Linked DNA regions of Homo sapiens. The protein of the gene in region 2 purifies or fractionates together with the protein of the main gene of each other region. This does not show direct contact. Each region holds a gene or a part of one and is shown on either strand. Other genes may lie near its edges.

Evidence for each region.
Region 1: the proteins of USB1 (region 2) and AQR purify together in Homo sapiens (affinity purification with mass spectrometry; 3 studies listed by BioGRID and IntAct, with this or other methods). This does not show direct contact.

The regions. Positions count from the first base shown.
Region 1 is NC_000015.10:34,903,547-34,907,417, reverse strand, and holds part of AQR (RNA helicase aquarius), read left to right. Parts: intron 1-705; coding exon 706-873; intron 874-2,912; coding exon 2,913-3,082; intron 3,083-3,871.
Region 2 is NC_000016.10:58,007,712-58,011,406, reverse strand, and holds part of USB1 (U6 snRNA phosphodiesterase 1), read right to left. Parts: intron 1,479-3,695; coding exon 1,295-1,478; intron 390-1,294; coding exon of another isoform or gene 278-389; exon of another isoform or gene 1-277. UniProt on the Homo sapiens protein: 3'-5' RNA exonuclease that trims the 3' end of oligo(U) and oligo(A) tracts of the pre-U6 small nuclear RNA (snRNA) molecule, leading to the formation of a mature U6 snRNA 3' end-terminated with a 2',3'-cyclic phosphate.

The DNA.
Region 1 (3,871 bases), on a different chromosome or scaffold from region 2:
GTGAGGTCTAATTTTATAATCCTTGTCTTCCAGTTTCTCTACTTTTAATAGAGCTGGGAAGCCATTTGAGTTCTTTATTGGGTCTAGTGACCAAGAAGCTGTGGACTCTGGCACAAGTCTCCTTTTTCTTGACATTCACTTATAAAAATGTTCACGATTTGCCAACTGAAACTGTATATATTCAGCCATCTTTCTCAAGATCATACCTGTAAACAATACTTTTTTGCCTTGATTAATTATTCTTGAGTTGACCTGTTTTAGTGAAATACAATTAGGCTGTCTTTGGAATGACACTGATAGATAGTTTAAACTGATATTAAAAACCTGCTAAATATGCTATAGATGGATTATATGCCAGCCATATTTTTGGTTACTTATTAAGATTGTTAAAAATAAGAATGATGACGAACATCCAATTTTGGAGCTGTAGCATGACTTGGAGGGCTTATTCAGTAATATATTCATGGCATGAATGTTTCTAATTTTAATATAAAGAAGTTTTCATTTCAATTAATGCTATGAAATATTGAGTATTAAAGATTATAGAAAAGCCCATAATTGTGTTACAATGCGATAATAATCATTGGTCACTCAACGGTATCTCTCTACCAAAGATAAGAGGTAGAGAGGCAAATAAGAATTTGCCTACAAAAGACTGAAAACAATGAAATTCTAATAAATGAAAATGTCTTTATATCTTACCAGGTCTTCGTAAGCATGATGTATGCTTTTTAATTACCGTACGTCCCACAAAACCTTATGGCACTAAGTTTGACCGGAGGAGACCTTTTATTGAGCAGGTTGGCCTGGTTTATGTCAGAGGCTGTGAAATTCAGGGCATGCTGGATGATAAAGGACGTGTCATTGAAGATGGTATGGTGACCTATATTTTTGAAAGAGTATGTGTATAGAATGATAAATTTCTTTGCCTTTTTCCCTTTTTGCTTCTTAGGTAATATTTTTTAGTTCTTTTACCTACTAAATTGACACAAAGGATTTTGTATCAAATATGTGTAGGGTACCTACCGTGCAGTTTTAGATATAGGTAACATGGTTTCTCACTGTGTCACACAGGCTGGAGTTCAGTGGCACAATCTCGGCTCACTGCAACCTCTGCCTCCTGGGTTCATGCGATTCTCCAGCCTCAGCCCTGCTAGTAGCTGGGACCATAGGCACGTGCGACCATGCCCGGTTAATTTTTGTAGAGATGGGGTTTCCCCATGTTGCCCAGGCTGGTCTCAAACTCCTGAGATCAAGCACTCCACTTGCCTCGGCCTCCCAAAGTGCTGGGATTACAGACATGAGCCGCCACCACACCCAGACAGTTTCAGAACTTCTATGTTAGATATTGGAAAGGACAGGATCTTTTTCTTTTTTTCCCCCCAAGACGGAGTTTTGCTCTGTCAACCAGGCTGGAGTGCAGTGGCGCGATCTTGGCCCACTGCAACCTCTGCCTCCCAAGTTCAAGCAATTCTGCCTCAGCCACCCCAGTAGCTGGGATTACAGGTGCCTGCCACCGCGCCTGGCTAATTTTTGTATTTTTAGTAGAGACAGAGTTTCACCATGTTGGCCAGGCTGGTCTCGAACTCTGGGACAGGATCTTTTGAAATCATCTTTATTCAAAGCTTTTTAAAATATGTAATACTTTACCATATTTTTTTTAAGAAACACTCTAAATATCTCTTACAGTTGTCCAAGCTTTTTTGTGTTCAATGATATATTTTTTCTTCTTAAATTTGACTATTTTAATTCATTGTAGTGGTGGTTCTTAATTGGGAACAATACTGTCCTGCGTTTGAAAATGCATAGTGATATTTAGGTTTTCAAATGACCGGGATAGAGGTGAGGAATGGCAGGCTCTTGGCATTAGGTAACTGTGAGCCAAGGATGCTAAACATCTGAACAGAAATAAAAGAAGGAATTATCCTGCATAAGATGCCAACTTTACCGCATTTAAAAACACTGCTTTACAAAATTAGTCAGTTATTTGATTTCTTATGTGTATCACTTATTATCCCTTTGAAATTCTTTCTTCTGTTGTCCTGACTTCCTTTATAATACTTATTATTAAATTACAACTGCATACATGTCTAGTGCTTATTTTACAATTTGGTTGTTGTACTTCTTTTGAAACTTTAGTCAGTTTATGCTATCTGTGGTTTAGAGATTATATCATTGCTAAACTGCTGATGATTAAGTTATTTATCTCTAGAATGAGAGGAAATAGGAGAAGGGAATGGAAAATGGATGGAATAAGCATAAGGCCACATAATGGAACCAAAGTTCGAGGTCTAAGACCCCCCCTTCCCCCCACCCCCCCCAAAAAAGAGGAGATATGTCAGAGAGGAAAGAAAAGGCTCTGGGCTTTCAACCATTAGTATCCTACATTTCTGTGTATGTGAAATTTCTTTTCATGCTGGTTATACTAGGTATGGAATGTGGAAGGATGAGAAAAGTGATGAACCTCTGTCAAATTAAGGAATTAATGAATAGAAAACTATGCCTTAAATTCTAAAATACATATATTTAATTAGAAAATATTTATTGAATACTTACTATATGTAAGGCAGTAGTGGGAGCTATGAGTGACAAAAGTAAAGATAAGTTCTTTGACTTCTAAGTACTCCTATTTTAGTTGAGTGTGTGTACAAATTATTGCAAGTCATGGTGTTGCATCGTAAACATTACATGACTGCTATGGAAGGAAATAGTAAGAATTTAGAGAAAGAAGAAAATACTTTCAGCATCTTAGAATTTGAAGTGGGTGAGTGGAGGGCATTCTACTTTGGGAAGAATGGTTGGAGTTAAGCCTGAACCATTTACTCACCATTTCTAGAAAAGAAATACTGTTAACTTATTTTGATATTTGAAAAATACATATTTTATTTAACAAACTTTTTCAAATTGTCCAGGACCTGAACCCAGACCCAATCTTAGAGGAGAATCAAGGACATTTAGAGTGTTTTTGGATCCAAACCAGTATCAACAAGATATGACCAATACTATACAAAATGGAGCAGAGGATGTGTATGAAACTTTTAATATAATAATGAGGAGAAAACCAAAGGAAAATAACTTTAAGGTAATTTGGGGGTATGTAACTAAAAGTACTATGTCATAATTTAAGTAACTTTTATGACATAAATACAGAGATATTTGGTTAGAGGAAGATTTGTTAAGAAAAAAATAATGACTGCTTTTATTTTTACTATAAGCAATCCTCTTAAACTTTTAACAAAATGATGAAATATAAAAATTTAAAGAAATTGATTTCTTAAATCTATTTTGTCTTTTGAGGAGTTTAAAAACTTAAAATATAGATGAATCCAAGTGTTATTCTAAAGGTCCACCTCCTTTTTTGCTTTTTGTATATTAGGTATTCAGTTAATGCCCTATTATGAAGTGAAGAAAACTTGCTTACTTGTTTACTGGGGCTTCTTTTTTGAATCAAAAGTAGGTATACTTCCAGGTCACTTTAAGAATACAGATATGGAATCTCAAGGCTCTGAATTACTATACGTTATAATATATTTTTACTCATTAGTAGGAAAGGGAGGTTTGGTGGCTCAAAGTTCTACTTTTAGAATAACTTTGTGGGGAGAAGAGTTTTAGTAAAGGATAGTTTTAAAAACCATTATTTGAAACTATATTATAAAACTTAAACATTGAACAGTTCTAGCATTTGATACATGTAGCTTTTGCAGAAAGAGTGCCTTTCTTTTCTCTTTCTCCCAAAGTGCAGTACTTCTTAGACATTCCTATCATTTTATTACTTTTATGTAACCCTGTTGTTGTGATTTTTTAAGAAAATCTTTTGAACAGCAGAACTTGTTCTTCATCTCTCCCTGTTGTTGAACACAAATGGAGATAT
Region 2 (3,695 bases):
TAAGGGGAAAAAAAAAGCCCCAGGCTGGCAGACAAAACCAGAAGTGGGGTCTGGTACTAACCCTTCACCCAAGTGGTGTGCTGAGGGCACCCATGATCTCCTTTCACCCCCATAGGCCCCCAGTGAGGTAGCTCCCACCATTACCATGACCTGTTTGACCTATCACTGTGAAATGATAACATATGTGTTGGTCTCAGCCTCCAGTTCCTGACACAGAGATCCTAAAACCTGTGTCATTTCCTAAGCAGCAGGGGTGCTAGGAGCATCTTTTGTTCTATTATCTGGTCTGTGATCCTGGCTCCTGACGCAGAGCTCCTAAATCCTTTGGAATTTCCTGGGTGACAGGGGCATCTTTGGTTCCAATGAGGCAATGAGGTCCTGGATGGGGGCTGATCACAGAAAGAGCAAGGCATGATTAGAAGCTGGGAACTTTCAGCCCCACCCCCTACCCTCCCGGTATGGGAGGGAAGCTAGAGACTGAGTTAATAATCCATCATGCCTATGTGATGAAGCCTCCGTAAAAATTTGGAACTACAGGGTTTGAGGAGCTTCCCTTGGTGATTAAGAACGCACCCATGTGCTGGGAGGGTGGCTCACTCCCAACTCCACAGGGTCAGAAGCTCCCATGCTCGGGACCCTTCCAGACCTCACCCTACCTATCTCTTCATCTGGCTGTTCATGTGTATCCTGTAACATATCCTTTGTAATAAACTGGCGCCCTAGTAAGTGGACTGTTTGCCTGAATTCTGTGAGCCATTCTAGCAAATGATCAAACCTGAGGAGAGGGTCCACAGAACCTCTGATTTGTAGTGAAATCAGACAGATGTTGTGGGTAACCTGAGAGCTCAACACTGCAGATGGTGTCTGACAAGGAGCGCAGTCTTGTGGGACTGAGTCCTTAACCTATGAAGTCTGCACTAACCCTGGGTTATTAGTGTCAGAATTGAGTTCGATTATAGGACACCCAGTGGGTGTCTGGAGAGTTGGATAATTTGTTGGTGTGGAAAAAAACTCAACACATCTGGTCACAGAAGTGCTGGAAGTACTGAGCAAGAGCTTACAGAAAAACAGCTGGCTTTTCCTACAGAGCAGATACGGCATCAGGGGTGTCAAGAGCTTCCACGGCATGCCCAAGGTCACGGAGGATGAGAAGTAGAGCAGGCAGCCCCAGGAGAGGGGCCGTGTTCTATCTTTAGGTCTGCCTGCCTGCTGGGGTAATGCCCGCAGTAGCTCAGGAGAGGAGGAGAAGCCATGGAGGGGAGGGAGTGGAGAGGCAGAGGGAAGAAGCACTCACCTGTGGAAGGAGGTCATACGGGCTTTCAGAGCCTGCACGAAGGGGAGGATCCAGTGGTGGCGCAGAACCACACTCTGGGACAGGCTGAGGTGGAACACCTTCATCCTTACCAGCCGGGGGACATATGTCTGGGCATGGGGCAGCAACACATCAAGCAGATCCAGGAACTCCTCCTTGGCTTCATCTGGAGGGGAGGAGTAAAGAGGGCGGGCCGTTCTCTCAGCCAAGGTGCCATGGCTGAATGAAGAAGCCCAGAAGGCAGAGGGAAGTCCTTATTACTCTGGGTTTGGGGAGAAAATTACTTGGACAGCAGCCTATGTCTATGTCTTCTAATATAATTTTATTTTCATTTATTTATTTATTTATTTATTATTATTTTTTTTTTTTTGAGAAGGAGTCTTGCTCTGCCGCCCAGGCTGGAGTGCAGTGGTGCAATCTCGGCTCACTGCAAGCTCCGTTTCCCGGGTTCATGCCATTCTCCTGCCTCAGCCTCCCGAGTAGCTGGGACTACGGGCGCCCGCCACCACGCCTGGATAATATTTTTTTTTTGTATTTTTAGTAGAGACGGGGTTTCACCGTGTTAGCCAGGATGGTCTCGATCTCCTGACCTCGTGATCCGCCCGCCTCGGCCTCCCAAAGTGCTGGGATTACAGGCGTGAGCCACTGCGCCCAGCCTCCAGTTTTTCTTAACAAGGTCTACCCTCAGGAGAAACTTACTGAATTACAGCCTAACCTGAAAGTGTTTTATCAGACTCTTAACTGACCTAGGGGAAGTGAAATACCAAACTGCAGCACCTTCTGGTCATCCTGTCCCACCTAGGAAGGGGAAAATTCTGAGAAGCGTGTGGGAAGTTCCCAGTCCAGAGGAACCGGCTCACCAAAAGATTGACACCCAATCACAGGACTACAGAAGGATTCTTGTCCCCCACCACCTCACCACCACATTCATACAGGCCTGTTTACCACAGTTCCTTTTACATAGTACTTCATGTCCAGCTATCGAGGAAAAATTACAAGACATACTAAAGGGCAAAAATACAATCTGAAGAAAAATAGTAAGCATCAGAACCCCTTAAATATAAAAGACTAGAAACCATACAATGTCTGATCTCAGGCCACAATGAAATTAGACTAAAAGTCTGTAACAGAAATGTAGCTGGAAAATCCCCAAATACTTGGAGATTAAAAAACACACTTCTAAATAACACACGGATCAAAGAAGAAATCTCCAGAAAACTTTATAAATATTTTGAACAAAATAAAAATGAAAACATAACTTATCAAAACTTGTGGAATGCAGCAAAAGGTGCTTAGAAGAATATTTATAGCATCAAATGCATATATTAGAAAAGAAGATCTAGGCCGGGTATGGTGGCTCACGCCTGTAATTCCAGCACTTTGGGAGGCAGAGGCAGGTGGATCACTGGAGGTCAGGAGTTCGAGACCAGCCTGACCAATATGGTGACACCCCGTCTCTACTAAAAATACAAAAATAACTGGGCACGGTGGTGCGTGCCTATAGTCCTAGCTACTTGGGAGGCTGAGACAGGAGAACCACTTGAACCTGGGAGGCGGAAGTTGCAGTGAGCTGAGATTGCGCCACTGTACTCCAGCCTGGGTGACGGATCGAGGCTCCCTCACAAAAAAAAAAAAAAAAAAGAAAAAGAAAAAGATCTAAAGTCAATCATCTGAGTTTCATCTTAGGAAAGTAGAAAAACAACAGCAAATTTAATCCAAAGTAAGCAGAAGTAAAGAAATAATTAAAATTAGAGCAGAAATCAATAAAATTGAAGACAAGAAATCAATAAAGAAAATCAATAAAACCAAAAGCTGGTTGTTTGAAAAGATCAGTAAATCAACAAGTTTCTAGCCAGGCTAACTAAGAAAAATAGAGAGGGCACACAAATTACTAAAATCAGGAATGAAAGATGGGACATCATTACAGATCCCATGGATAATAAAAGGATAATCAAAGAATACCATGAATAACTTTATGTCCACAAATTTGATAACCTAGATGAACTGGAACAATTCCTTGAAAGACCCGATCTGCTAAAACTCACAAAAGAAGAAATAATCTAAATAGGCCTAAATCTATTAAACAAATTGAATTATTATTATTTTTTTTTTGAGACAGAGTCTCACTCTTTTGCCCAGGATGGAGTACGGTGGTGCAATCTTGGTTCACTGCAATCTCCGCCTCCCAGGTTCAAGCGATTCTCCTGCCTCAGTCTCCCGAGTAGCTGGGATTACAGGCACCCGCCACCAAGCATGGCTAATTTTTTTGTATTTTTTTAGTAAAGACAGGGTTTCACCATGTTGCCCAGGCTGGTCTCAAACTCAGGCAATCTGCCCGTGTTGGCCTCCCAAAGTGCTGGATGATAGGCGTAAGCCACTGCAC